2 linked regions of the Homo sapiens genome follow. The protein of the gene in region 1 interacts with the protein of each later gene in a biochemical or structural test. Each region holds a gene or a part of one and is shown on either strand. Other genes may lie near its edges.

What was found.
Region 2: the proteins of DCTN5 (region 1) and PMEPA1 form a complex in vitro, tested with the Homo sapiens proteins (one study listed by BioGRID).

Annotation. Positions count from the first base shown.
Region 1 is NC_000016.10:23,660,835-23,675,993, forward strand, and holds part of DCTN5 (dynactin subunit 5), read left to right. Parts: intron 1-335; coding exon 336-447; intron 448-4,791; coding exon 4,792-4,894; intron 4,895-6,182; coding exon of another isoform or gene 6,183-6,190; exon of another isoform or gene 6,191-6,212; coding exon 6,213-6,310; 3' UTR 6,311-15,159. UniProt on the Homo sapiens protein: Part of the dynactin complex that activates the molecular motor dynein for ultra-processive transport along microtubules.
Region 2 is NC_000020.11:57,648,022-57,663,180, reverse strand, and holds the end of PMEPA1 (protein TMEPAI), read left to right. Parts: intron 1-3,483; coding exon 3,484-3,638; intron 3,639-10,094; coding exon 10,095-10,148; intron 10,149-10,582; coding exon 10,583-11,128; 3' UTR 11,129-14,785; downstream 14,786-15,159. UniProt on the Homo sapiens protein: Functions as a negative regulator of TGF-beta signaling and thereby probably plays a role in cell proliferation, differentiation, apoptosis, motility, extracellular matrix production and immunosuppression.

The sequences.
Region 1 (15,159 bases):
AAAAATGTGATCTGTGAGCATTTTCAAAGGAAGTGGGAATGAACAAACGTTCATTGATTTTTATTTGGTACCTGCTCTTTTAGCTTTGAAGATCTTGCCCCTCCTGCCTTGGTTTTTCCTTTCATATTTCTTTGGTGTACTATTGCAATTTTGAACTAGTAATCATATTCATTTTCTTCAATATTGTATAATTTTTCTAGCCTGAGGTTTCTTTCCTTGCTGGGAACAGTCTTGCTAAGATGATAAAGTTCAAATTATGATCTGTAGTTCTATAAACCTTGACCCAAAGTACATCATCTTGACCTTTCTGTGTTCATCTTCTTTTCCTCTTCTAGTGTTGCATTCTTTCCTTTACATATTGGAGACCATGTCTTTATTGAGGAAGATTGTGTGGTCAACGCAGCACAGATTGGTTCCTATGTTCATGTTGGGAAGAACTGTGTGATTGTGAGTATGATGACTTGGCTGGCAAAGCAGCTTCACTTTCCCTTCAGCTCCCATCCCTCACTTCGGTGGGACCCTGTTTCTGTGACTAAGCAGGGTAGCAGTGGTTTCCAGTCTTCCCAGAGTTGGATTTTTCTTGACAGATATGGAATTTTTTCAGCTGGGTGCGGTGGCTCATGCCTGTAATCCCAGCTTTTTGGGAGGTTGAAGTGGGCAGATCACTTGAGGTCAGGAGTTTGAGACCAGTCTGGCCAACATGGCAAAACCCTGTCTCTACAAAAATACAAAAATTAGCTGGGCATGGTGGCGCATGCCTGTAGTCCCAGCTACTCGGGAGGCTGAGGCAGGAAAATCACTTGAACCCAGGAGGCGGAGGTTGCAATGAGCCAAGATTGCACCACTGCTTTCCAGTCTGGGCAACAAAACGAGACACTGTCTTATAAATAAATAAATAAATAAATAAATAAATAAATAAAAAGATTTGGAATATTTTCTAGACATTAATACGGGCAAGCGTTTATCAAGTCTCCTCTATATGATGTTAAACTCTTTCCTTTGATGATTTCATTTAATCCTTACAACCATTCAGATGTGTTAGGTGTTATCCCTATTTGCAGATGAGAAGACTGAGGACCTTAAATATTAAGGGATTTGGGGCCAGGTGTGGTGACTGTAGCCTATAATCCCAGCACTTTGCGAGGCCAAGGCAGGAGGATCCCTTGAGCCCAGGAGTTCAAGACCAGCCTGGGCAACAAAGCAAGACCCTTTCTCTTAAAAAAAAAAAAAACCCAAAAGTTAAGGGATTTGATAGGGCTAGAAAGCAGTAGACCTGGGATTTAAACCCAGGCAATATGATTATTAGCCATGCTGCTATATGGCCTACTTATTGCCTTACTTCACGGAGCTTACAGTCTAATGGGAGTAAGGAAATCTGAAGGGTGAGTTGAAACTGGGGGAAGACAGGCATTTCAGGAAAGAGATTCACATGCGTAAGGAAGGGTTCAAGTCATCAAAGGGCATTTACATGTAATTCAGGGTGCAAGCGGGCCCCTTGCTCAGCAGAATCTGTAGGACCCTGGTCCATTGGAGCCTAGGAATAGGTTGATTTAACCCAACCAAGGCTTAACAAGGTTGGATTTCCTGTGATTTCTTAGATGATGAGCTTGATTTCAGTTGGGATTTATGAGAACCATGTTTAGGGAAAGTGTTTTCTGCATTTTAGATTTGTACTCCAGACTAGATTCTAGGAAAAGCCAAGACTCTGTTTCTTTAATGACCATTCCCGTTAATATGGAGCCAGCTCTCTGCCCTGGATAAGACTCAGACCCTGAAATATCAAAAAACTTGCAGAAACCAAACAGTTCACATTCCAGGAGCTATGAGGGTACAGCAAAGGTGGACAGAAAGTCTTTGGGACAAGGGGAAAGTTAGTAAAGTTCATCTCTCCCCTCACCCTAATTGCTTGACAAAAGCTAGCCTTCCAGCTGGGGGTTTCTGATATTTTCCTTAGCAAAGTGAAGATATCACCCCAGTAGCCTAGTCATATAACCCTGTCGTTTATCCTCAGAGCGAAATGTCTGAAAGGTTGAATCCAAATTCTATTCCCAGTGCTTAGGAAATTCTAATCCTATTGTCAGGTGCTCTTGTTTTTATGCCACTTTTTAATACATCACTTCATGATATAGTCATTGTTCCATATTGGCGGTACTCGCTGAGCCTTGACAAATACTCGATCTCAGGAGAGATTCTTTTAGAATTCTAGAATCTCAGCACTGGAAGTAACTCTTTTAGTCCAGCCGTCCCCATGACACATAGCTCCTTCCTATAACATCCCATGTGATAGTCTTAATTTCCGTTTGGATATGTGAAGATGTAGGTGTTCATCAGAATTGCTCAGATGCCTGAAGGAAAAGCTTAACAAGCAATATTTATAGGCACTGTTACTGTACTATGAGTTTTACATTTATTCTCTCTATTCTTGACAACCTCCCTGCAGATTTGGTTTTCCATCCTGTTTCATAGATGAGGAAACCAAGGCTCCAAGATGCTAACTTACTTGCACAGGATATATAGGTAGCTGTAGTATTAGCAGCACGGCTGCAGTTGTTAACTCCTTGGAAAGCTCTCTAGGGAAGAATAAAGAAGTAGTTTCAGGCCAGGCGCAGTGGCTCATGCCTGTAATCCCAGCACTTTGGGAGGCCGAGGCAGGAGGATCACTTGAGGCCAGGAGTTTAAGACCAGCCTGGCCAACATGGTGAAACCCCGTCTCTACTAAAAATACAAAAAAATTAACTGGGCATGGTAGCACATGCCTGTAATCCCAGCTACTTGGGAGGCTGAAACAGGAGAATCGCTTGAACCCAGGAGGTGGAGGTTGCAGTGAGCCGAGATCGCGCCACTGCACTCCAGCCTGGGCAACAGAGTGAGACTCTGTCCCCCGCCACCAAAAAAAAAAGAAGTTTCAGCTTTTACCTCCTCAGCTATTACCAGTACATTCATGCCTAAGAAATACCTACATTTTAAATGTTTAATTTGATTGATCAGTCTACCCAGACAGCTTCTGAAACCCAGTTAAGTATTATTTCTCTAAGTGGGCAAAATGGCCAACCAGTGGACAGAGCAGGTGCCTTCAGGCTGCATGGTGGCTGGTATACACAGTGAAAATATCCCATCAGCTAGTCTTCTTTTCCAGGGCCCTTTGTCTGTGGATCCCTCCATGGGACTATATCATGCCTTATGTAGCACATTGGGTGTCCTTTTACTCAGTGCCTCATGAACTTAGTCTGAGTTAGTAGGAGCTTAGTCATGACAGGAATTCTTAGGGTTTATGTTAATTTGAGGTCACCAGGGAAGATAGTTGCCCTATTTTTGAAATTGCCACTAGCAGGTAACCCACGGAAGATAACTTTACAAGGAAGAACGAAGAACTATAGTCATAATGTGCTTTTGAGCTAAAGATGTTGCTGAGTATTCTCATAGCTGTTATCCACCTAGCTGGAGAGAGATCAGCCACTTGGGAAATTCAGAGCCACTTAGGAAATTCACATGCTTTCATAAGAAGTTCATTTAGCAATCTACCTTTTCCTAGAAAAACATATGATTTAAGTGTTTAATAATGGGGAAAAATTTAAACACAAGCAAATCAATCATGTTCTTTGCTAAAATCTGAGGTCTGGACTGGTTAGCATTGTCCTGGTATTTGTAAAGATTTCCACATTCTCAGTCAGGTATATTTTCTGATTGTCTAGCCAGGATACCAGTGAACTAACAGGCCCTGATGTAAATGCAGTCAGAATGATCAAAACTTTCATTTCCTCAGCAAGGAGTCTAAGATACAGCTGTAAACTGTACACAGAAGCCCCATGAAACAGATGAGTCTCTCAGACCTTATTTCTTGCTCTCTGAATGCCGTGGATCATGGCAGAATTGAAAAGTGGTGACAGTGGTTAAAGTCAGGGATGAGGTTCAAACATCTACATGACTATCACTCACCAGTGGGAGAACAAATGAACTAATAGCTTCATATCCAAATGAATTTTTCAGGGTTTTTCCAGTTTGAATTGACAAAAGAGCAAACCAACCAACCAACCTTAAGCTGGTGGATGTGGAGTGGAATGGGTGGTGAATATAAACCAAGAGTACAGGAGTAGATCTTAATGTCACGGCCAAATGGCTCCAGGCATTCAGCCCATGTTGTAAGAATTAGTCTCCATCTCTGTGCTGCTTTCCTCTGGGAGGTTCACTCCCAGGCAGGTTCTTCCTTCATGGAAATAAGATGCCTATTCCAGTCTTCCAGCCTATCCTCTGGAAACCCCAGTGGGAAGTGCTGCTTTCCCCAGTAGTCCCAGCAAAAGCCCTGAGGTTGGGGTCCATCAGACTAATTGGGGTCATATGCTGACCTGTTATTGTTTCCAGGCTTGGGGTTTGGTGTGTGGGCTGGGGGGTGAAGCACATGGATGAGATGGGGATGGGAGGGTTACCGAGGAAAATACAGGTTCTGTTACCAGAAGAAAGGGGAATGGATGCTGGACAAGCAAAAGCACAAATGTCCACTAAATCAAAGGGAAAATTCAACAGAGCTCATGGAAGACTGAAATTCAGTCTGTAATGTCTGAGACAGTTTGTCCTGCCTCTAGCATACAGCCTTCCCCCCGAAATGTACACAAACACACACTCTCACAACCTTGCTGCCTCCTTCTCGTCAGGTACCACCTGAAGCAGGAAGTTGCAACCAACCCTCTTGTCACCGTCCCTGGCTATTACATGGTATCATGAATGGGGAAAATAGAAAGGAGCCTTTCACACAGTAGACTGATCCATTTCCTATTAACAAGATTTTAATTTCAGGGGCGCCGATGTGTGTTGAAAGACTGCTGCAAAATTCTTGACAACACAGTATTACCTCCAGAAACTGTGGTTCCACCATTCACTGTCTTCTCAGGCTGCCCAGGTAACCTTGGCTGTTGATTAATTTTATTTTAACTTCCTAAAACTCAGTTGTATTTTCCATCGCAAAAGTAATGCTTACGATTCCTATCTCTGGCAATATGTTGATAGAGCTAACTTAGAAATTCACCTGTACAAAGTACCTAGAAATGCTACCTAACATATAACAAGCATCTGTTTAAATGCATAATTGGGTTCACCAGAAAATAAGGAAATTATGAAGGGCCAAACACAAAGAGGAAACTAAGCCCAAGCTGTGAGATTGCACGGGTTAATGCTGTCTTCATAATAGAGTGATTTGAGGGGTGATACTCATGTCGGGATGGAAATAAAGCCTTGGATCCACACATGGCAGAGAGATCCTCAAATACTCTTAAAGGATTCCCTCTCAAGGAAAAGTCGATGTAAAACAAATCTGCTGCCAACACAGGGAATGTACAAGAAAGCATTTCTTGCCTGGCCTGGACTCTGGGTAGAAAAAGTCTGTCTAGAGAATTTTAGTACTGGGCTTACCCTCACATTGGTCATGGGTTTAATTTGTACATTCCACATGGCCCAGGAATTCCCAGACTGAAAAGTTAGCATAAACCATGGTCTAAGACCAGCAATACCCTGGGGATACCTGAGAGGGGCAAATATTAATACATTATCTCTGGACCTTGGCTGATAGAATGCTCACAAGTAAAGCCCATCAGGAGCCCGGAGTTCCAAATTATAAAGCTTGAGGAAACAAAAGTGATACGTACTTCTCTCAGAAAACTTGGAAAACACTGAAAAGCAGAAGGAAGGAGAAAACCTCACATTCCCTTAGCCCTACCCCAAGACAGTATCTTCTTCTCCATGTTGTTTTACACAGCTGAAATCATGTAGCATATACAGAGGCACGTCATAAATTCACAGATGGAAAATAATATGAACAGAGAGATTTGACAGTATATGATACCTACCACTGAGTGGTTTAATTGTTTTTCCAATTAAAAAATAAATCTCATCTCTCAGATCATTGAATCTGAGTTTCTAAGATGAACAAAATCATCACTCAGATTCTTCGGGGAGGCATTTGGCCATTCTACCGTGTCATGCATCTCTGCTTTTGCAGAGGAGGAAGGAGAGACTTTTGTTTAGTAATTTCTCCATATTGGGGTCCTGCTGTGAAAAAGTTTAGCTGTTCTTAGCAAGCACTGGACCAGAACAGCCTCAGCGATTATTTAAGTGATTGTCAGACATGCATCTGATTGAGGTGAGAAGGATATTGCCAGAGAAATATCTTAACTTCTTGTAACTTCTTCAAGCTCCTTAGAGCTGGGTCTTTCTTTCCCCAGGACTCTTCTCAGGGGAGCTCCCGGAGTGCACTCAGGAGCTGATGATTGACGTCACCAAGAGCTACTACCAGAAGTTTTTGCCCCTGACGCAAGTCTAGCATCTCTGCCTCATGTCTTGAATCTGCTTGAGCTCTAAGATGAACCTGGGGACAAAGTGAGCCAGTCAGCACCTACAAAGAGCTTTTGTGTCTTTGACATCTACCACCCTCCTCCTTTTAAAAAATTTCTTTAGAATTTCTCAATCTTCAAGGCTCTAAGTGCTTAAGAATTCACTAACAGACAGACCATCTGGAGGAGCTGTCTTCAAATGCTGTGCTTACACCTTATCTATGAACAGTCACTTTGTACCATTATCTGTGGAACACAGAATCATCTGTTCCCAACACTCCAGCCCCTTGGTCCTGTGGATGGCTGGATCCCGCCTGAAACGGACCTGCAGAGCAGCAGCACCCTTCCGGTGTGGAGGCTATGTAGCTGGTGCGCTGCTCACGGCCATTCACTGCCCATGCTGAGCGCCTCTCACACAGGTAATGCCCAGCTTTTCTGCTGCTAACACATTTGGCCAGTTGTTGCAGTTGCTCATCATCTTGGGAAAGGTGTTTGTGACTTTTCAGAGCCCAGATTCCTGTTGTCTATTAAAACTTGAAGGGAGGGGTGAATAGTGTTTCTCTCTTCTTCCCAAAATGACCTTAGCTGTCCTAGGATAGTTAGTAAAAGACTTTTTAGCATTTTGACCTAGGGCCTTTGGCTTTCACTAAAAGTGGGGACCTCAGTATCCCAGATTGTAATTTTGCCAAGTGTTAGATTTGAGTCTCTCATGTGGATGCATTAGTCAGGTGGTTACTCCTTGCTTCAAGGTACTTACCTTATTTCATTGAAGACACCGCATTTGTGAACTCTTGCTTCCTGGCCTAGAACCATTCAGCCTACCCTGTATTTGCCATAAACTCCACAATTCACACCAAAATGTCTGTACTTAGAGCTAATTCGCATATATACAGGAAGGGCTCTTAGAATCAGTTTGTGGGCACAGAGCCTCAGGAGTAAATGAAGTTACTAGGGCTGTTCTTACCATCTCCTTCTGGCCAAATAGCACAACATTTCCTCGTTCTGCTCTGACCTCTTAGCTTAGAAGGAAGATTCAGAAGTGAGGGGCTAAGAAGGTTGTCCTTGCCTAATGCTCTGATCTGTAAGTGAATAGGGCAGAACAGTTCAGCCTTGAGGTTAGAATTTAGCAGGAGCTATCCTGACTTAATATCCAGTTGTGGGGTTTGCAAAACAAAACAGCTGTATGTAATCATTGCCACTAGTTCCATCTAGAACTCCTTTCTAGTTTGTTATTTTTAAAATGTTTATACATAAAACCACCAAAATACATAGCTTCGACAAGATGGAAGTTTATTTCTCTCTCCCATAACAGTGCAGTGATAGTCAGCTGGTCCAGGCCAGGCAAGGGGCTGGTCCATGATGTCATCAGGCACCCAGGTTCCTACTGTCTTGCCATGTGGCCACAGTTAGCAACAAAGGAGGCTGTAAATTTAGTTTCTACTTGGGCAGCCAAAACTCTGAGGAAGGAGATTCTGCTAGTAAAAAGGAGTGGGGGAAGAATGGCCATTGGGAGACAACAAGCAGACTCAACCAGGCCTCTTTGTTGGCTTCCTTTCCTCCTGCTGCACATGAGCCTTCGCCGTGCATTTGGAGCCATGACAGCTGATAGCTCCAGACCTGCATCCTCCTAGCTTGGGGGCTCTGAATGAAAGGTTTCTTCCCTTCCAGTTCGAATTTGGAAACTCCCAAAGTTCTCAATGGTTTGTTGTGAGTTCCATGTCCTCTTGGATCAGTCACTGTGGCCATGCATGTTTGGCCACATGATTAATCCAGTCTGGGTCATGACCTTTTCTTCATCCAAAACAAGGTGATGGGAAGACAAAAACAATAGCTACTACAAACAATAGGAGTTTATAATTATGTGCTGATGTATTCGAAGATGTGTTGACAGTCGTGAGTGTGTATCCTAGGAAAGGCGAGCTGGACTCTGTCTCCATGGTGGCTCTCACCCCAGGGACCTAGGAACAGCCTGTCACCACACAATTACTTTTATAACCCTGGAGATGAAAATCTCCTTGTCCTCAAAATACTTCCAGAAGAACAACCAGATGGGAAGGACCTTGGTTGGGACTCTTTCCAGTTCACTTGGGGCAGAGGGAATTTAATGGCTCACGTAGCTGAAAAGGATGGGCTAGATTGGGCTTCAGGCTGCATCCCAGGACTCCAAACAGGGATCTGTCTCTTTGGCTCTCAGCTCTGCTTTCATTTGAGTTGGCTTTATTCTTGGGCTTCACAGTGTGGCCCCACAGCACCAGTTATTGATAAAAAGAGCTCCCCTTTGCTGACAGAACTGCTGGATTTGGTTCTCATTGGTCCAGACGAGGAAGGTATCCAGCCTCAAGTCATCATTGTGGCCAGGAAGATGGAATACACCAAATGGACAGGCCTGGCATGTACCCACAGAGACTGAGAGTTGGTGCTGGTGGTTGTGGTGGCAGATGATATTACCTGAAGAAGGGACGAATGGGTGCTGGGCAGGACAAAGCATCAGCTGTCCAGTTCAGGCCTCTCCTCTTTCCCTGGTGTCTTCATTTTCCTCCGTCTCCCTGCTGTCCCTTACCCTCTGCCCAATCTCTCATTACTCCTGGTCTTGGGAGTTGCCTTCTGAGGATACTCCACTGGGGGTACCTGAGCCTGGATTAGAGGGCAGGGGGAGGATATTGCCTAGCCAAAGTGGGTGTTCAATAAAGAACCATTTGGAGATGGTCTTCTGTCTGGAACTGCTTCCTTTTTGTTTTATTATTTTTCCCCAGATGAGCTGACTGGGCCATGGAACTGCATCCTTATGGTTCCCATAGCACCTTACCGAGGCGCCCTTATCAATAGAGTTTTAGTTATGTACCTGTGTTCTTGTCTGAACCCCTACTAACTGTGAGCTCCTGAGGAGTCAGGCCTGAGTCTGTGGGTCATCTAGCACATCCTTAATAGAATGATTGCCTGGATGTGACCACCCTCACCCCCAACCCTCACACACCCTGCCAGCATGCCTCAGACCTTACCCCAGCTCAAGATAAGTCTCAGATTGCAGGATACCTGCTGCAGGGAACAAAGGTGAATGATTGTCTTGTGAGCCTCCTGTTGACTGATTCTGTTTTACATGGCTGCACAGAGCCCTTGTGGTTATTTGGGGTTGGGGTGGTGGCTTCTGTATTAGTCACTTCTGCATGAACCATTTCACTCAGGATCTGAGGCCACAGTTCCTTTCTTAGTCACTGATACATCTGGCAGACTTGAAATTAATCAGACAAACATTGTTCATAGTTAACATATCCTTGGAAGTTTCTCAGCTATAAGGAAGAGGTCTTGGTGGCTAGGGAGGCCTTTCTCTGTATCCTGTTCTATCCAGTGAGAGCCTAGAGGGTGCTGCCCAGCCATATTCTGGCTAGCCTCAGCGGTTCTCCTGAAAAAAAATTGGCATCTGACAACCTGGATGGTGACTATAGGTAGTCAAATCCAGCTGGCTGGTCTCCTGGGGGTTAGCTTCCATGGAGCTGCAAGTCCCCTGAAATGATACTGGCAGTGTTGGGACAGCGTGTCCGAAGGCCTGGTTTTTTCAGAACTGGTCTCAGCAAAATGTCTCGCCAACTTCTACAGTTCCCATAAGTACATGATAACTGAAACACTTCTAGAGCCCCCCAGCAATGGGCTTGTGCTTTTAGTAGAATATGTGCTTGCTTCCATTTAGGGGTAAGAAGGTGGGCCCCTCACCATATGCTGCACAGAGAAGAGAGACACCATCACTCATTTATTCATTTAACAAGTGCTTTCCAAGCCACTACTAGGTGCCAAGCACTTCCTAGGTCCTGGGGATACAGTGGAGACTAAGATGGAGCCAGTTCTTTCTCATAGGGATCTCACAGCTTAGTGAGTGAGAAAGCCAAAGAGTCAAAATACAGAGAGGGTCTGAGGGGCCCATTTTGAGAGCCATCATAGTGGTGAGGAGTGTGAGTGCTAGAGTCAGGCTGATCAAATCCCAGCCTGCCATTGGCTAGCCTTGTGACTTTGAGCAAGTTATCTTACTTCGTGGAACCTCAGGTTTCTCATCCATAAAATGGGGAAGTTGGATAGGGTATTATGATGATTGAAATGCATTTATACATGTAAAGCATAAGTACTGGCTCAGGGTGAGCACTCAATAAACGGCAGTTTATTAGGCACTTTTATTAGGAAGTGATACACCTTGAGCAAAACCCCTTAGAGTATAAGGCATAGCATTCTTACATATTTTTAAAATTTAAAATAAAATTTAAAACATCTTGCCCTTTATAATCAGTCCGCCACAAACAAGAGATGGAGAAATCACCCTTCCTTGTTTTGTATCTATGGGGTGCAAACATTTAATCCTCCCAACTGTCAAAAAAGTGAGAGTTTCACAGCCTGTTTTACAGCAGAGGAAACTGATATTCAGAGAGGTTAAGTAAATTTGCCCAATGCCACACATCTAATAAATGGCTGAGCTGGAATCAAGGCCAGCTCTTACTTGGCTGCAAAATCCATGTTTTATGCAGCTCCTCCACTATCTTGGCCTCCAAGGCAGCTGGCTTTGAACACTACCCTTGCAGCCCAGTCAGCCAATCCCTTGCTCTCCTGAAGCTTTTGCTGGTGGGCCAGCCCCACCTGCTTTCCTTGTGCACTCTGACTTGGACCCTGAAGTGAGAAGAGTTGGCACAGGACATCTTACTTCCCTGAAAACAGTACCTGGACTTTTCTGTATCTTCACATCCATTGGGCATTGGGCAAATGGGTCATGCAGATGAAAACCATCCAAGATAAGAGACATGGGAGTGAAATTCACACCCACTCTGGCTTTCATACCATGGGTCTGAACATTAGCCCATGGTGTTTCTTGGCCATACTGACCTGTGCCATTTCAGCTGCATTCATCTCAGTTGGTGTTGTCTGCTGGCTGCTCTTTCTGATTTCCCACAGGAGCAGTAAGAACCTGAGGAAGAGTAGGGTCAGAGGAGTCTGGGAGAATGAGGAAATATGAGAGCCCCAGGAACTGAAAAGGCCTGTGAGAGACTCTGAGCTTCCTGGGAACAGGTATAGGTTCTTTTTATTTCAATAATAACAGAAACAACTGTCAAAACCATGTGCCTGTACTATTTGGAGTGCTGTCCTTGCAGAATCTCATTATAAGAACCTTAGGAAATAGGCACATCATCTCCTGGATAGAATCCTAGGAAATGGGCACTATAATGGGCACTTTATCCCATTTTATAAACATGGAAATTGAGGCACAGAGAGATTAAGTACTTTCCCAAGGTCATACAGCTAGTGATGGAGGAGCTAGCATTTGAACCCGGAGTTTTTAGTCTATTGAGTTTAACCGACAGATCATACTGTGTTTTGGTAGGGAGGGAGGGAGGAAGCAAGCAAGTGAACAAATGAGTCTGGGATTTAGGACTTGCCAGACAAACAAGGCCCAAGAGGCAAGTGTGCAGGTGGGTGTAGTTGGGAGTCAGCAGAGTTGGGTTGGAATTCAAGCTTTGCCACCTGCTGGCTATAAACCTTGGTTGGGTAAGTAACCCAAGGTAAATGAGATCATCTCTGTAAAACTCTTAGCCTTGTGCCTGGCACATAGTAAATGCTTAATAAGGGTTCACTGTTAGTATTACTGTTACTGATAACATACAAATAGATTGTATTAATGGACCATAATTGCAACTGTATAAAACAAATTCCATGTTTGGCCAGGCGCAGTGGCTCAAGCCTGTAATCCCATCACTTCGGGAGGCCGAGGTGGGCAGATCACGAGGTCAGGAGATCAAGACCATCCTGGCTAACACAGTGAAACCCCATCTCTACTAAAAATACAAAAAAATTAGCCAGGCATGGTGGCGGGTGCCTGTATTCCCAGCTACTTGGGAGGCTGAGGCAGGAGAATGGCGCGAACCCAGGGGGCGGAGCTTGCAGTGAGCTGTAATTGTGCCACTGCACTCCAGCCTGGGCGACAGAGCGAGACTCCGTCTCAAAAAAAAAAAAAAAAACCACAACAACAACAACAAAAATTCCATGTTGACAAGGATGGGAATATGAGAACATGGAAACAGCTATGAAAAGACATAAGAGAATTAGGAGGATTTTCTTTAATATATCATTTTTTAAAAAAAAACTTGCTTGTATTTGTTTATTTTTTAAATAGAGACAGGGTTTTACCATGTTGCCCAGACTAGTCTTGAACTCCTGGGCTCAAGCGATCTTGGCCTCCCTAAGTGCTGGGATTACAGTCATGAGCCACTGTGCCCCGCCATTTTTTAATAAACCTTTCTAATGGAACAAGTAAAACACATGCAGTGGATGCTCAGCAGGCCTTGAGTGTGTGAATGAAAAATATTTGAACTTGTTTTTACTGGTTGATTTCATTGCTTAAAAAACATACCTTAGCTGGACGCAGTGGCGTGCGCCTGTAGTCCCAGCTACTCATCTCTTAAAAAAAAAGTTTTATGCTTGTTAATTTCATAAATGCTAGAGGGATCACCCTAATCAAATAAAGCTACTCAAAAATAAAATATGAAAGGTGTTAGTGGGATACAGCTTTCTAGTTTTTTGCCACTAGTGGATAGGTTGGAATTTAAATTCTTCGGATATTGGAACCAGAACAGGCTGTAACTGATTATTTTTGCTGTGATTCGTGCTTACTGGAGCCTCGGGAAAGAGGGAGACAACATGTAAAGAGAAGCAATCTGTTTGGAAAATGAAAATACAGTTAAATTGCTAATGAACCCTTGTCAAAATCAAATGTCTCCCCTTAGAGGCTGATGATTGTCTAGTCTAATATGCATTTTTTTTGAGTGGGTCAATTGGACTCTAAGACCAACAAGATAAAAAGGCAGCCTTGCATGTCACTTGGACCACAGCTGTCTGGCCATGCAGCATGCCTTCACTGCTGCTGAAGAAAAGCAGCTGCTTGTTGAGAATCTCAAATTCTCAGATCCTAATTGCCTGGCCCTGACTCTAAGCTGAAACCTGCTACTGTCTGCCTTGAGCTGTTTTAGCCTCAACACGAGCTATGCTGAACTGAAAGCAGGCACAGGCTCAATGACCAGGACTCAGACGTTGGGGCCGTTGGAGATTAAGGACCCCCTCCGTGGAGCGCTAAACTATGAAAACGTCCTGGAACCTGGCTGAAAAGGGCTTATTCTCTAATGGGACCATCTAAGATCAAGCTGCTGATAGGCTCTTTGTCTCTAATACAGAGGCTAATTGCATTCCTAACTTCTAATATTTGCCAAACGCTCCAAGCTGGGGAAGGGCACATCGCAAGGACTATGACCTCTCCTCCTGCTTTTGACAGACCAGACTCAAACCTTCTCTGGGGCTTCTCTCACTGCTGTTGACTTGTTGCATTCAGCTTTTGGGATTAGTTGCAGCTTGCAACAGTGGACTGACAGCCTGACTCTACTTCCCTCACTTTTCTCCCAGCACACACAGCTTAGTAAGGTAGGTGGATTATTAAAACGTAGCTGTCCCCAGAAAGGTATTAGGCTTTTCTAGTCTGCTCATTGAATAATCAGGACAAAAGGGGTAGAAGATTATGTAAACACATTTTGAAATTTTTAAAAATTCAGGGTTTCATCCTTTATTAGTTTGCTAAGGATACCATAACAAAGTACCACAAACTGAGTGACTTACACAATAGAAACTTATTTTCCTGCAGTTCTGGAGGCTGAAAGTCCAGGACAAGGTGTCGACAGCTTTAGATTCTTCTGAGGCCTCTCTGCTTGGCTTGCAGATGGCTGCCTTCTTACTGTGTCCTTGTATGGTCCCTCTGTCTGGGTGTCTGTGTCCTAATCTTCTCTTTTAATAAGGATACCACTCAGGTTGGATTAGGGCCCATCCTAACAATCCCATTTTAACTTAGTTACCTCTTCAGGGCCTATCTTCAAATATACTCACATTTTGAGGTACAGGTAGATGGTTAGGGCTTCAGCATGAATTTTTGTGGGGACATAATTCAACCCTCCACACATAATTACCAATTTCTGAATGTCTTTCTGGTTAAGTTGCATAAAAACGTTTATCTACTTGAACTCTAGGATGATAGTTAAAAAAAAAAATGTTGGCCAGGCGCAGTGATGGATGCATATGATCCCAGCACTTTGGGAGGCCGAGGTGGGCAGATTGCTTGAGTTCAGGAGTTCAAGACCAGCCTGGCAACATGGTGAAATCCTGTGTCTACAAAAAATGCAAAAATTAGCTGGACATGATGGCATGTGCCTTTGGTTCCAGCTACTTAGGAGGCTGAGGTAGGAGGATGGCTTGAGCCCAGGAGGCGGAGGTTGCAGTGAGCCAAAATCGTGCCACCGCACTCTAGCCTGGGCAACAGAGCCAGACCATATCTCAAAAAAAAAAAAAAAAAAGTTTATCTACAAAAATGCTTTTGTGCCTCTTACATACAACCCTTCCAGAGGAAAGGCCTAGCTGAGAGTAAGAGATGGTTGAAAAAATGCAATGTTATGATTGCTGAACAGGGCACGACTGTTTTTGTAATATTGGAGAAAATAATTAAAGCCTGGCACCTGGGGAGGCTTGATCCCTGGAAGCCTCCTCTTGCTGAAGGAAAATTCCCAGTGCTGCCTTTCCATGTGCTGTGAGTGCTTTGAGTTCAGACTGACAACAGAGTGGGTCTAGCTTCTATGCTTTCCATGAAGATCTCCCACAAATGTCATCCATGCTCATGAGATGGATCAACTTGTATCCTGAACAAGCAAAACTGTTTGGGACTCACTGCCTTCAGGCAGTCCCTTGGAAGCCAAGGACTCTGGGAACTTTTCAGATGGGACTGGAAACACTTGGGCAGGAGTTCCCCTGGTAGGAGGTCTGTTCACCTGTACAG
Region 2 (15,159 bases), on another chromosome or scaffold:
GTTTTTCTCTCTCCTCTCCCATGTGAATTTTCCTGGGCCAGTGACCCAATGGGAGTTGGTGGCCCAGGGACCAGGGTGACGCTCTTATGCGCTACTGAGCCCGGTGCTCATTTCTGGGAGCGTTTTTCTCACTCTGTGGATACAGACGTCCAAAAGTCAGATCCCCCTGCCCCTGGGGCCGAGCCTGGCGGGGCCAGGAGAGCCGTGAGGGTTTGTCCACACCCATTCAGTCTGCAGGGGCCTCCTCCATTGCCCCTGCATCCCACCGGCCCTGCAGCCCCAGCTACCGTCTCACTGCTGTCTGGGTCCTGCGGGCTGCCAGGGCCCGGGACAGGGACAAAAACAGCCACACACCTCCCTCCCTCCAGGGCTGATGTGGGCTGGGCCCCTGGAGACAGCTGGGGAAGGGGGAACTGGGGTGAAGAGTGCACAGGGTTGGGGGGCAGGGAATTGCAGGCCCCGGGGGTGGGGGGGCGTGGGTGTTACACAAAGCCAGCCCTGTGTGTACCCTGAATGCGGCTTTATCCTGAGTGCTAACAGACGGACCTGGGCCCTACAGAATCAGGCCAGGCTGCCCCGGCCCTGGACCTGCCTGTCTGGGGAGACAGGAGGTGTGGCCACAGCGACCTGGGTCTGAAGCCTGATCTCTCCTGGCCAGGAACATGCGGGTGTCCCACAGGCGGCCCAGGGCTTGGGGCCTGAGTTCCCAGCAGGCAGGGCCGAAGCCTTCTCGGGGCTTGGGAAAGCCCCACCAAGCCTAGTGGGAGGACGCGCCAGCTCTAGGGTCTTGGACTTCTCGAGGCAATCACTTTTCCCTCTGAGCCCGTGTCTCCTCACCCGTGAAATGGGGATGATAATAAAAACGCCCGTTCTTAGGTGTGCTCAGCCCACAGCATGACCGACTGGATTGGATCATTCTTTGTCATGGGGGACAGTCCTGTCGGTGCAGGACGGTTACCACAGCCCCTGGCCTCCACCCACTCCATGCCAGGAGTACCCCCCAGTTGTGACAACCAAAAATGGCTCCAGACATCGCCACATGTTCCCTGGGTGCAGACGTGGCCCCAGCTGAGAAACACTGGCTCATTAGCAGTGTAGACAATGGCGCGCTGAGCCCTGGGTGCAGATGCGGCCCCAGCTGAGAAACACGGGCTCAGTAGCAGTGTAGACAGTGGCACGCTGAGCCCTGGGTGCAGACGCGGCCCCAGCTGAGAAACACTGGCTCAGTAGCAGTGTAGACAATGGCGCGCTGAGGGTGGCACAGATGCATAAAGTGCCCGAGACGGGGAAGTTCTGGAAAACCTGTTGGGGAAGAAGGAGTGGCAGTGGACACAGGTGTGGGAGTGCTTCTGTGTGGAGAGGCGTCTGCCACTTCACAGACAGTGACATTCCCACCTAGGATGGGCTGCTTTCCTGCCTTGGGGAGAGCGAGGCTGGTGGCAGGAGATGGCTGGGCCCCCCGGGTTTGGAGTGTGCTTGCCTGGGCTGTCTGATGGCCCGAGCGCCTGGCATCGGCTCTGCACGGCCTGTTTTTTCTCCAGTTGCCACCTGACACCTGCCCACCCCGATCCCCCTCCCCCGGCTTTGGTTCCTCGGTCCTGGGAGGAGGAGGAACTGAGTCAGTGGCACTGGGCTTGAACTGGGGCCCCCAGGGAGCCTGGCTAATTGCTTGTTAGTGCCAGGGAGCCCTGGGGAGTCCTCCTTGCCCCCATGCCAGCCGGGGTCTGGGGAGTCACATTCCTGCACACCTTGGGCAGGGTGTCCTGGGCAGGGCGAAGCTGGAGGAGCTTTGGCCCCGGACGCTGCCGGCTGGTGCCCACTCTGCCGTGTCAACTCCAAGGGACCCGGCGTCTTGCCCATTGCTGGGGGCTCTGCTGGCACCGTGCTCGGCCAGCTGCCGAGGCCGCTTCGGCACAGACCCGCTTGAGTCAGCAGAAACTGCCCGGCTCAGGCAGGATCAAAATAACCTTCTTCCTATTCCAGCACTTGAGGGTTTTTCCGCCTTCTAGGGGAAAAACAAATCAAAAACCAAAAAAGAAAAAACAAAAAAACCCAACCTTAGAAAATGCGAATGGCAACATCCGCAGCCATCTGGAATGTGGGTTTTCTGAGGCCTTTTCACCAAGAGGAGGGTCCTGACACCCCCGTCCTGTTGAGCGTGGCGTGTGTTTGTGAGTCCTGGGATGGATGTGTGTGTGTGGGCACGTGTGGTGCGCTGTGTCTGTGTGTGTTTGTGTCTGTTGGGAAGTGTGTGTTGGGATGTTGACTTGGGTGTGGGACTGTTGAGGGGTGTGTGTTGGGGTGTTGATATGTGTGTAGGAGTGTTGGGTCGTGTGTTGGTGTTGACGTGTGTGTAGGAGTGTTGGAGTATGTAGTGTTGTTGACGTGTGTGTAGGAGTGTTGGGGTGTTGTGTGTGGAGGAGTGTTGGGGTGTTGTGTGTGTAGGAGTGTTAGGGGTACGTGTTGGGGTGTTATTTGTGTAGGAGTGTTGGGTCATGTGTTGGTGTTGATGTGTGTGTAGGAGTGTTGGAGTATGTAGTGTTGGGGTGTTGTGTGTGTAGGAGTGTTAGGGGTACGTGTTGGGGTGTTATTTGTGTAGGAGTGTTGGGTCATGTGTTGGTGTTGACGTGTGTGTAGGAGTGTTGGAGTATGTAGCGTTGTTGACGTGTGTGTAGGAGTGTTGGGGTGTTGTGTGTGTAGGAGTGTTGGGGTGTTTTGTGTGTAGGAGTGTTAGGGGTACGTGTTGGGGTGTTATTTGTGTAGGAGTGTTGGGTGTGTGTTGGTGTTGACGTGTACTTAGGAGCGTTGTGTGTGTAGGAGTGTTGGGGCATTTGTGTTGGTGTTGTGTGTGTAGGAGTGTTGGTGTGTTGACATATGTGTAGGAGTGTCAGGTGTGCATAGGTTTGTGTACACACGTTCACATGTAGCTCCTCTTTGTTTAATTCCACAAAGCTTCACTCCCAAACTCAGTGCCAACTTCCTCTCTCCGCACTCAGGGGTCCCCTTCTCCTCCCAACTGCTCCCTCCCTGGGCCCCTAAGAAGGGTCTGTGACCGTCTGCCCGAGCCTTTGCCCAGCGACAGGAGCCAGTGCGCAGGGCTCCCTTTCTGCCAGTCAGCTCACGCTGTGCATCTGCAGAACGGCTCCAGGAGGCTCTGAGAGCAGAGAGCAGGGCCTTCCTCCTGCCTGTCCCGTTACCTCCTTCCGGTCAGTCCCTACAGAGGGGGTGTCTGGGTCCCAGGACACCTTTGAGGTGCTCTCCCAGCCAGCAGTACCCCCTCCTCCGCCGTGAGAGCAGCTTCCCTGCACGTACCCCAGCCCCAGGCATCGCCTGTGACCTTGCCGGGAGAGTGGCGGGGGCTTTCCTGAGTCTGGGTTGCACTCTCGTCCCCCTAGGTGGGTGAAAAAGCTCAAAAGGGCTGAGCCCTGAGCACAGCGACCTGCAGGTGTCCAGGGTCTCACGTGTCCCTCTTTGTCTCCACAGCGGAGCTGGAGTTTGTTCAGATCATCATCATCGTGGTGGTGATGATGGTGATGGTGGTGGTGATCACGTGCCTGCTGAGCCACTACAAGCTGTCTGCACGGTCCTTCATCAGCCGGCACAGCCAGGGGCGGAGGAGAGAAGATGCCCTGTCCTCAGTAAGTGCCCCGCCATCCCATCTGTGGCCTGAGGGTGCGGCAGTGGGACGCCCCTTGTAAAAACTCAGACGGGATCCAATGGCAGCGTTTGCAGGAAACAGATTCAGGGCAGGAAGACAGGGGCTGGGGAGCCCACCTGACAGCAGCTTCCTCCCCTGAAATGGGAGGAAAGCACCCGCCAGGCGGGCCTCAGAGATGCTGGAGGAACGTGGGGAATGAAGAGCTGGGCTGGGAAGAGGCTTCGTGATCCACTCACGCACTCAGCTGACTCTCGAGCAGCCTCGGGTCGCAGGCTCTGTGCAGGGCCTGGGGAGAGGGCAGCACACAGGTCCTTGCTGTCATGGAGCTGACGTTCCAGGAGGGAGATGAGACGCCCAGTGGTGATAGCGCCATGCAGGAGATGCGACCACTGGGACCTGGGGGAGCCTCTGCGAGGAACCCTCGGCTAGGGAGGCAGGGCTGGGCTCACAAGCAGCGCAAGCTGACCCCCGTCTTGACCCACATCTCTCGAGGCTGAGTGGAGACAGACCTAGAGAGATGAGGCTGAAAGCAGGGAGGCACCTGGGGCAGGCAGCACAGGAAGGCATTCTGGGTCCACACAGAGGCCTGACACAACAGGATGGTGGAGACGAGGGGCCGGCATTTGGCTCTTACCCACCGGGGTAGTGGTGGGAAAGGTGCCTGCAGTCCTGCAGCCCTGACCCAGACGGAAGGGAGGTGGCGGCCCTGCCCTCGTGCCCGTGCTATGCTGACATCTGGTCATGTGGTCACAATGCCTTGGAGAGCCATAGAGGCAACAGGACACCAGGTCCCGGGGCCTAAGTTTAATCCCATCTCCACCAGTACTGGCCACGTGCCCTCAGACCTGTCCCTGATCTACAAAATGGGGCTTCAGATCCCCCATTTGTAAAATGGGCTGACAGTCACATCCACCTCCCCAGAGATTCAGGGCTTTAGCACAGAGCACGGGTCTGGTCATTACTGGCTATAAAAGCACTTCCATCCATCCATCCATCCACCTGACAGATCTCTACCCAGCACACACACGGGGTATGCAAAATTCCCCCTGCGTTTGGGAAGTGGCTGTGAGCCAGTCCCAGGGGGTGCTGCTGGTGAGTTGGATGGGCGCAGACAGGAGCAGGTGCACGGATGAAGGAAGCCGAGGGCCGTGGCCAGGAAGTTGGGGCGAGCTGCTCTTGAGGCCGTGCTGTGCAGGACCAGGTGAAGTGGGCGCGGGAGTGTGAGGAGGACAGAGCCCTGCAGGAGGGACCCCGCTCTCCATTACAGTCCTGGGTGTTGATCTCTCAGAGTTGTGAGCATTGGTGGGTGTTCTGGAAACCCCAAGAATTTCCCTTTCGAATCTCCACAAAGTCAGGGGCAAACAGGGCAGATCTGGGTCGGTGGGAACTTGCCCGCCTCTGACGGTGAACTCCCGGCTCCATGTCGGCCGCCTGAAGCCCGGCTGTTCGGTATCCTTCAGCAGGTGGACCAAAGGGCGGCACAGAGTTAATCTCTTAATGGCTTCCATCTCTGCACCCAGGATGTGTAACTCAACCACGTGGGGCAGGAAGCGGCTGTTTAAAGAGCAGGCTGGGAACTGTGGGGAGGAGGTGGCACGTGGCCAGCCCTGGGGCTGCGGCACGTCTCTGAGCCGGGGCTCACCAGGTGTGGGGAGGACTCACAGAACAGGCAGCACTGAGTGTGGCCTCCCCACTTCTGGGGACGCCTGGGGTTGGTGGTGGCGCCCAGAGTCCCTGGGCTGAGCCAAGTCAGCTGAGAAGCCTGTTGGCCACAGTCCCTAGCCGGAAGGCCTGTCCCTGGCAGGTCTGGACACCTCTGCTTGCATCAGGCCCCAGCCTCAGTGCGTCACCAGGTTGCCAGGGCAAGGAGCATCAGCCCTGGGACCTCTGATGGGAATGCCTGGCCCACAGACCCGGGGCCCACTGTGCGTCCCAGCACGCTGTCCGGAGGGCGTGCTGCAGACCTGCTGCTCTCAAGCCCCGACGTGTTTATTTGCTGTTGCTACCACTCCAGCAACAAGCACTGGTTACGTCTGCCCAGGGATGCCATCAGGGACTTCAGGGGTTCACCCCACTTTCCAGAGGAGAAACTGGGGATGAGAGAGGTGGAACATTTGCCGGAGGCCACACTGCTTGTCACTGCCGGTGTGAAGAGCCCACAGCCTATTCCGTCCTCCCTCAAGTGCTGGGGAGAGTGACGGTGCCTGGACATTCCAGAAGGCACCAGCCCTGGAGGGGCACTAACTCCAGGCTGGACTCACCTTGCCCCTCGGAGCCTCAGTGTGTGCATCTCCACAGTGGGTTGAAGCTAGGCCTGTGCGGCCCGTGGTCATGGGGAGGATGCAGTTAGTGGAGAGTGTACCGTACCCAGAGGCCGACTGCAGGGGCTTCACTGTTGTGGAGCAGGAGACGGCACCTGGGATCCTGCTGCCAGGAAGGGGTAGGATTCCGTCACACCTTCGGCCAATAGAAAGTCTCCTCCCACTGTCTACCCAGCCGCCTGCACAGCCGCCCGGGATGCCTGGCTGGGTAAACGTGGAGCCTCACTAGGCCTAAAGCAGAATGTGGCAGCTCCCCTGGGGACCCCCTGCCAGACAGGAGTCCCTGGGCCCCGCGGCCTTCCATAGAGATCCACATACAGCTCTTATCTGTCCCGGGCCCAGTCTACATCCCCCCAGCCCATCCATGCTCTGCCCCTGGCATGGCTATCCGACCATGGCCCCTTTTCAGGGTGACCCTGGGGGTCCCCTCTTGCCTGTATGGAGACAAGAGCTCGTGCCTCACCCACCTGCCTCACCATCTCAGGTAAGACCCTGAGCTCTGAGGTCTTTTCTCGGCCTTGTCACCTCCTTGTTGTGTGACACTGGGCAAGGATCTGCCCTCTGAGGGTGAGGCTCCAGTGCAGGCAAGCCCCTCGACCAGGGATGGCACTTCCACCCTGGCGCTGCTCCGAGGGTATTCGGGACATGATGCAGAACGTCACTGCAGTGACCGCCCAGCCACGGAGTGGCGCAGACTTCAGGTTTACCCAGAAAGGCAATCCCAGTCTTTGTGCCCAAGGCCTGCTCAGACTAGGAACTCAGGCCTTGGATGGGGTGACCCTTTGTCCTCTTTATCCCCCAATCAGTCCTCAGTGTGGGTCTCCTGCTCCCGAGAGAACCCAGCCCACCAAGGGCCCATTTCCCAGGGGCAGGGACAAGACTGTGGCCAGGCCAATGTGCGACAATCTGCCAGCAGCGGGAGCCAAAGACCTAGCGTCCACTCCCATGGCCTCAGGAGATACCGAATTCCCCCAGGCCCCTTGTGCTGGGCTGTGGGGGAATTCAGTATCTCCTGAGGACATGGGAGGTACCGAATTTTTTAGGAACATCTCTTTATTCTTTAGAAACATCTCTGAGTCCTCGAAGTTTGATAGAAGGCCATCCCGTCCCCTTGGATGTTCCTGGGGACTCCAGGGGAAGAATGGGCAGCTACGTTCTGGCCTCGTGGTGTTAAGACTCTGGAGGGGTCTGGGAGGAGCTGCCTGAGCGTCAGCTCACTGCGGCTGCCTGGTTTTGTCAATGAGGTCTTTTCTGAGTGTGAATGAAGTGTTTTCGAGTGCGTTTTGCCCATAGCTGCGCTTGGCTGTAGCAGCAGGGTTCAGTGGTATGACAGAGACCCGCCGGCCCACAAACCAGAAAATATTTTACTCTCTGGCTCTTTATGGAAACAGTTTTCAGACCCTTGGTCTAGAAGCATCTAAATGGGGAAGGCGCAGGTGGACTGGGTGCGCCCACTTCAAAGAAGAGGAGTCCACCCCGAGCCCTGGGAGTCTGGGAGTGGTTGGAGGCTGCTGGGAGCAGGGGGCTCGTCAGCAGTGGCTGTAGGATTGGAACCTGTCCTTGTCCTCCACCTGGGGTGACTGGCAGACATAGCCAGAGGCTGGGGAAGGTTCCAGACAATTCTGAAGCTGGGCCCACCTCCCCCGACTTCTCAAGCCACTTTGGAACCTAATTCCACAAAGATGACTTGCACGGGTCACCCAGCAACTTCCGCACTTAAGTAGCAACCTGAGCACTCCCTGACTGCATAGCACGCCGGCGCCTGGCACTGGGGAAACGGTAGCAGCTCCTGCAGGGCGAGTGAGACCCCTGAATAGGCCACCGGGGGCAGAGGGACAAAGGCTGTGGTGCAGGAGGGGACTGGAGGAGATGGGAGGAGGTGCCTGACCCGCCTGGGGGGCTAACGGAGAGCTCTGGGGTTAGCACACCTGGGCAGAGGCTTGAGGGGCCAGTCAAAGTTCTTCAGGAAAGGGAGGAAAGAGGGGCCATTGGTCCAGACCCAGGATGGGCTCAGATCCAAAGGCAAGACGTGAGAGTCTGTGTTCACTGGGCACCTTGCAGAACACACTGTATGGTGCATTGCAGGCGCTGTCATCAGCCCGCTATACAGATAGGAAAACCCGTTAAAGGAAACAGCTATACTACGGCCGTGGACATCTAGGGGGTATGGGCCTCGGTAAGGGGTTGGAACTTTCTCTCCTGGAGGCAGCGGGGGGCCCAGACGGTTTAAGCAGAGGAGTGGCAGGGTGTGGGGTGGGGGGCATGAGGGAGATGTTCCCACTTCTGTGAGGAGGAAGGGCCCTGGGGAAGGGCAAGAGTGGAGGAGACCCTGGGAGACCCCTCAAGGACCTCAAAGACCAGCGGCACTCGCAGCCTCTGGGAGATGGTGAGACACGCAGGCTCGCCAGCCCTCCTGCTACAGAATCTGCATTTTTGCAGGCTGCAGATGGACTGTCTGCACATGGAGGCCCTGGTTCCATAGGACTTTGCTGTCCACTAGGCACAGATGCTGGGGAGAGAGGTGGATAGAACTGTCTAATAGAAGGAGAAGTGAGAGGGGATCAAGGGTGGGTGGAACAAGGGTGGTGGGGAGAGGAGCTGTCAGGAATGATCCTGTGGATCTGGCTTTGCAACTTGAAGAATATCAGAGCCATTCGCTAAATCAGGAGACGAGGCAGTTAAGACCTCCTTAAGGGGTAGGAGCGGTCCTGACGGGACAGTTTTGAGGGGCCACAGAGCCTCCTAGTGGCCATATGGGAAATTACCACCCTCTGGCCGTTCCTACCCAGGCTGCAGGTGAGCGGTATCCTACCTGGGAACCCTCAAAAAACCTGCCCCAAGGGAACGTTTGAGGTGATGGACATACTCATTATCTTGATTGTGGTGAGAGGTTCTTGGTATAAATATATGCCCGAACCAAATTGTATGCTTTGAATATGTCCATTTATTTGCATATCAGTTATATTTCAATGAAGCTATAAAAGTAACAGACATCCCTTTCCCCGGGCCCAGGGCTCACCGTCATGGCATTTGGGGAAACTCAGAGGAACTGGTCCTGGCATGGGGTCTCATTTTCCTCAGAGCAGATGGCATAAGCTTCATGAAGTGGCAGCTGTGCCCCTGCACCCAGACCAGAGCTTGGCGCCACAGTGGAACCACACACCTCCTTTGCCAGAGGCTGAATCACTGTTTTATGGCAGAGCAGCCGCCTTGGGCACTTTCCTCAACTCTCCTGTTTTTCACCTGTGAACTGGGACATCAGTAATGATGGGCTCACTAGATCAAGGGAGAGAAAGACTGTAAAGAAATAAATGCATAGAAGCAATGATTAAGTTAGGACAGGTGCTGGAAAGGGAATCAACAGATGACAAGGTTCACGGGAGAGGCCCTTCAGATGCTGGTCTCCAAGGGTCTGCAGGGGACGCTGGAACTGAAAGTGGACAGCAGCGGGCCGTGCAGCCTGGCCTGCCGTGTAAAGGACCTGGGGCTCGGGCTGAGCTTGTTGAGGCCCCAGGGGGCTGGTCAGCATGGCTGGTGGGAGTGTGGAGGTGACACCCAGCACATTCACATGCTACCTGAGTGCCACGTGGGCTCCGGGTGGTTTTTACATTCAAATTCAGCAAGTGCTTGAGCAACTATGAGGCAAGTACTGTAATCTCAAGAACTGTAATTCAGGTACAGAAACTGCAGCGTTGAAATTAAGTAACTTGACGCAGGTCACACAGCCAGCAGGGGGCCCAGGCCCAGGGGAGTGGGGCCAGGGGTGAGGGGCTGAGGCCATGTTCAGCCTGGTGAGAAGCCACTGAGGCCCACGGGAAGCTACAGGCAGCTTTGAGAAGGGGGCCCCACAAGTGGGTGTATGTTTTGGAAAGTGTCAGGCTGGATTTTCAGGGGACAGCAGAGGGCACCTCAGGGATCAGTGAGGAGGTGATTGCGCTCACGTCCTGGAAAAGCGCCCAGGGCCAGGGGCTGGGGAAGCTGGTTCCGATGCAGAGAGGTGGGCGGGTTCAAGAGCTGATTCCAGGGTAAAGGCCTAAGAGTCGAATCTGGGTTGAGCCTTTGCTGTCCCTCCTGCCCACCCCACTGACCCTGCTTGTACGTTTCTTCCTGTGCAGGAAGGATGCCTGTGGCCCTCGGAGAGCACAGTGTCAGGCAACGGAATCCCAGAGGTGAGACCTCCCTCGGCCTCCCCTCCAACACCCCCATCCCACCCTGGGCTGCTCCCGCTGCGGCTGGAACAGTGTGGGCTGCTAAAGGCTCACCCCTCCGCCCTCCTCTGCAGTGCCCTTGCTGCTGGGATCCTCCTTGCCGGAGATCATCTGCTCCCTGCCCCTGAGGGAGCAGCCCAGCTCTCTGCTCTCTGCACACGGGAGCACGGACGCTGCCACTGTTTGGAGGAGGGCGGTGCAGCTCTGCAGTGCTGCCCCCCAGGCCAGGGCCCCCGCGGGATCAGGCTCTGGGCTCCCGCCCCCGCCAGCCCTGCTGCCCTCTCCCTTTCCCCAGAGAGCCAAGTCCCATGCAGCAGAACTCCAGTCTCAGGATCGCTTCTGGACAACCCACCTGAGACAGCCGCCCTCCCTCACTCCCGCTCTGCTTCCTCCAGCCGCAGGTCTACGCCCCGCCTCGGCCCACCGACCGCCTGGCCGTGCCGCCCTTCGCCCAGCGGGAGCGCTTCCACCGCTTCCAGCCCACCTATCCGTACCTGCAGCACGAGATCGACCTGCCACCCACCATCTCGCTGTCAGACGGGGAGGAGCCCCCACCCTACCAGGGCCCCTGCACCCTCCAGCTTCGGGACCCCGAGCAGCAGCTGGAACTGAACCGGGAGTCGGTGCGCGCACCCCCAAACAGAACCATCTTCGACAGTGACCTGATGGATAGTGCCAGGCTGGGCGGCCCCTGCCCCCCCAGCAGTAACTCGGGCATCAGCGCCACGTGCTACGGCAGCGGCGGGCGCATGGAGGGGCCGCCGCCCACCTACAGCGAGGTCATCGGCCACTACCCGGGGTCCTCCTTCCAGCACCAGCAGAGCAGTGGGCCGCCCTCCTTGCTGGAGGGGACCCGGCTCCACCACACACACATCGCGCCCCTAGAGAGCGCAGCCATCTGGAGCAAAGAGAAGGATAAACAGAAAGGACACCCTCTCTAGGGTCCCCAGGGGGGCCGGGCTGGGGCTGCGTAGGTGAAAAGGCAGAACACTCCGCGCTTCTTAGAAGAGGAGTGAGAGGAAGGCGGGGGGCGCAGCAACGCATCGTGTGGCCCTCCCCTCCCACCTCCCTGTGTATAAATATTTACATGTGATGTCTGGTCTGAATGCACAAGCTAAGAGAGCTTGCAAAAAAAAAAAGAAAAAAGAAAAAAAAAAACCACGTTTCTTTGTTGAGCTGTGTCTTGAAGGCAAAAGAAAAAAAATTTCTACAGTAGTCTTTCTTGTTTCTAGTTGAGCTGCGTGCGTGAATGCTTATTTTCTTTTGTTTATGATAATTTCACTTAACTTTAAAGACATATTTGCACAAAACCTTTGTTTAAAGATCTGCAATATTATATATATAAATATATATAAGATAAGAGAAACTGTATGTGCGAGGGCAGGAGTATTTTTGTATTAGAAGAGGCCTATTAAAAAAAAAAGTTGTTTTCTGAACTAGAAGAGGAAAAAAATGGCAATTTTTGAGTGCCAAGTCAGAAAGTGTGTATTACCTTGTAAAGAAAAAAATTACAAAGCAGGGGTTTAGAGTTATTTATATAAATGTTGAGATTTTGCACTATTTTTTAATATAAATATGTCAGTGCTTGCTTGATGGAAACTTCTCTTGTGTCTGTTGAGACTTTAAGGGAGAAATGTCGGAATTTCAGAGTCGCCTGACGGCAGAGGGTGAGCCCCCGTGGAGTCTGCAGAGAGGCCTTGGCCAGGAGCGGCGGGCTTTCCCGAGGGGCCACTGTCCCTGCAGAGTGGATGCTTCTGCCTAGTGACAGGTTATCACCACGTTATATATTCCCTACCGAAGGAGACACCTTTTCCCCCCTGACCCAGAACAGCCTTTAAATCACAAGCAAAATAGGAAAGTTAACCACGGAGGCACCGAGTTCCAGGTAGTGGTTTTGCCTTTCCCAAAAATGAAAATAAACTGTTACCGAAGGAATTAGTTTTTCCTCTTCTTTTTTCCAACTGTGAAGGTCCCCGTGGGGTGGAGCATGGTGCCCCTCACAAGCCGCAGCGGCTGGTGCCCGGGCTACCAGGGACATGCCAGAGGGCTCGATGACTTGTCTCTGCAGGGCGCTTTGGTGGTTGTTCAGCTGGCTAAAGGTTCACCGGTGAAGGCAGGTGCGGTAACTGCCGCACTGGACCCTAGGAAGCCCCAGGTATTCGCAATCTGACCTCCTCCTGTCTGTTTCCCTTCACGGATCAATTCTCACTTAAGAGGCCAATAAACAACCCAACATGAAAAGGTGACAAGCCTGGGTTTCTCCCAGGATAGGTGAAAGGGTTAAAATGAGTAAAGCAGTTGAGCAAACACCAACCCGAGCTTCGGGCGCAGAATTCTTCACCTTCTCTTCCCCTTTCCATCTCCTTTCCCCGCGGAAACAACGCTTCCCTTCTGGTGTGTCTGTTGATCTGTGTTTTCATTTACATCTCTCTTAGACTCCGCTCTTGTTCTCCAGGTTTTCACCAGATAGATTTGGGGTTGGCGGGACCTGCTGGTGACGTGCAGGTGAAGGACAGGAAGGGGCATGTGAGCGTAAATAGAGGTGACCAGAGGAGAGCATGAGGGGTGGGGCTTTGGGACCCACCGGGGCCAGTGGCTGGAGCTTGACGTCTTTCCTCCCCATGGGGGTGGGAGGGCCCCCAGCTGGAAGAGCAGACTCCCAGCTGCTACCCCCTCCCTTCCCATGGGAGTGGCTTTCCATTTTGGGCAGAATGCTGACTAGTAGACTAACATAAAAGATATAAAAGGCAATAACTATTGTTTGTGAGCAACTTTTTTATAACTTCCAAAACAAAAACCTGAGCACAGTTTTGAAGTTCTAGCCACTCGAGCTCATGCATGTGAAACGTGTGCTTTACGAAGGTGGCAGCTGACAGACGTGGGCTCTGCATGCCGCCAGCCTAGTAGAAAGTTCTCGTTCATTGGCAACAGCAGAACCTGCCTCTCCGTGAAGTCGTCAGCCTAAAATTTGTTTCTCTCTTGAAGAGGATTCTTTGAAAAGGTCCTGCAGAGAAATCAGTACAGGTTATCCCGAAAGGTACAAGGACGCACTTGTAAAGATGATTAAAACGTATCTTTCCTTTATGTGACGCGTCTCTAGTGCCTTACTGAAGAAGCAGTGACACTCCCGTCGCTCGGTGAGGACGTTCCCGGACAGTGCCTCACTCACCTGGGACTGGTATCCCCTCCCAGGGTCCACCAAGGGCTCCTGCTTTTCAGACACCCCATCATCCTCGCGCGTCCTCACCCTGTCTCTACCAGGGAGGTGCCTAGCTTGGTGAGGTTACTCCTGCTCCTCCAACCTTTTTTTGCCAAGGTTTGTACACGACTCCCATCTAGGCTGAAAACCTAGAAGTGGACCTTGTGTGTGTGCATGGTGTCAGCCCAAAGCCAGGCTGAGACAGTCCTCATATCCTCTTGAGCCAAACTGTTTGGGTCTCGTTGCTTCATGGTATGGTCTGGATTTGTGGGAATGGCTTTGCGTGAGAAAGGGGAGGAGAGTGGTTGCTGCCCTCAGCCGGCTTGAGGACAGAGCCTGTCCCTCTCATGACAACTCAGTGTTGAAGCCCAGTGTCCTCAGCTTCATGTCCAGTGGATGGCAGAAGTTCATGGGGTAGTGGCCTCTCAAAGGCTGGGCGCATCCCAAGACAGCCAGCAGGTTGTCTCTGGAAACGACCAGAGTTAAGCTCTCGGCTTCTCTGCTGAGGGTGCACCCTTTCCTCTAGATGGTAGTTGTCACGTTATCTTTGAAAACTCTTGGACTGCTCCTGAGGAGGCCCTCTTTTCCAGTAGGAAGTTAGATGGGGGTTCTCAGAAGTGGCTGATTGGAAGGGGACAAGCTTCGTTTCAGGGGTCTGCCGTTCCATCCTGGTTCAGAGAAGGCCGAGCGTGGCTTTCTCTAGCCTTGTCACTGTCTCCCTGCCTGTCAATCACCACCTTTCCTCCAGAGGAGGAAAATTATCTCCCCTGCAAAGCCCGGTTCTACACAGATTTCACAAATTGTGCTAAGAACCGTCCGTGTTCTCAGAAAGCCCAGTGTTTTTGCAAAGAATGAAAAGGGACCCCATATGTAGCAAAAATCAGGGCTGGGGGAGAGCCGGGTTCATTCCCTGTCCTCATTGGTCGTCCCTATGAATTGTACGTTTCAGAGAAATTTTTTTTCCTATGTGCAACACGAAGCTTCCAGAACCATAAAATATCCCGTCGATAAGGAAAGAAAATGTCGTTGTTGTTGTTTTTCTGGAAACTGCTTGAAATCTTGCTGTACTATAGAGCTCAGAAGGACACAGCCCGTCCTCCCCTGCCTGCCTGATTCCATGGCTGTTGTGCTGATTCCAATGCTTTCACGTTGGTTCCTGGCGTGGGAACTGCTCTCCTTTGCAGCCCCATTTCCCAAGCTCTGTTCAAGTTAAACTTATGTAAGCTTTCCGTGGCATGCGGGGCGCGCACCCACGTCCCCGCTGCGTAAGACTCTGTATTTGGATGCCAATCCACAGGCCTGAAGAAACTGCTTGTTGTGTATCAGTAATCATTAGTGGCAATGATGACATTCTGAAAAGCTGCAATACTTATACAATAAATTTTACAATTCTTTGGAATGAGGCTTTTTCACTTCTTTGGCCAAATGTAGCTCTTCTCACTTCCCACCCCTTTCTACAATAACCCCGGGTGCATTCAAGGGAGGCGAAGCGATCCCTCGGAGCTGCTGGGCAACCTTGAACAGTTCGTTCAAACTTTCTGTTTTATTAGTTCAGGCAGCATTCAGGGAGCCCAGTGAAAACACTAGCTCAGGCAGGTTCTGGTAAAGGGGGTGGTCGTTGTTAAACAATTTTGCAAAACACTGCATACTTTTCCTCCGTCGGGAAATCATTATTCACCATAGCATGACGAAAGCTCTGATAAGGTCTGCAAGGAAAAAAGAAACTGTCTTAGGTAGGGTTCTTCCAGAAGTAACCCCAAGACGTGGCCTTGT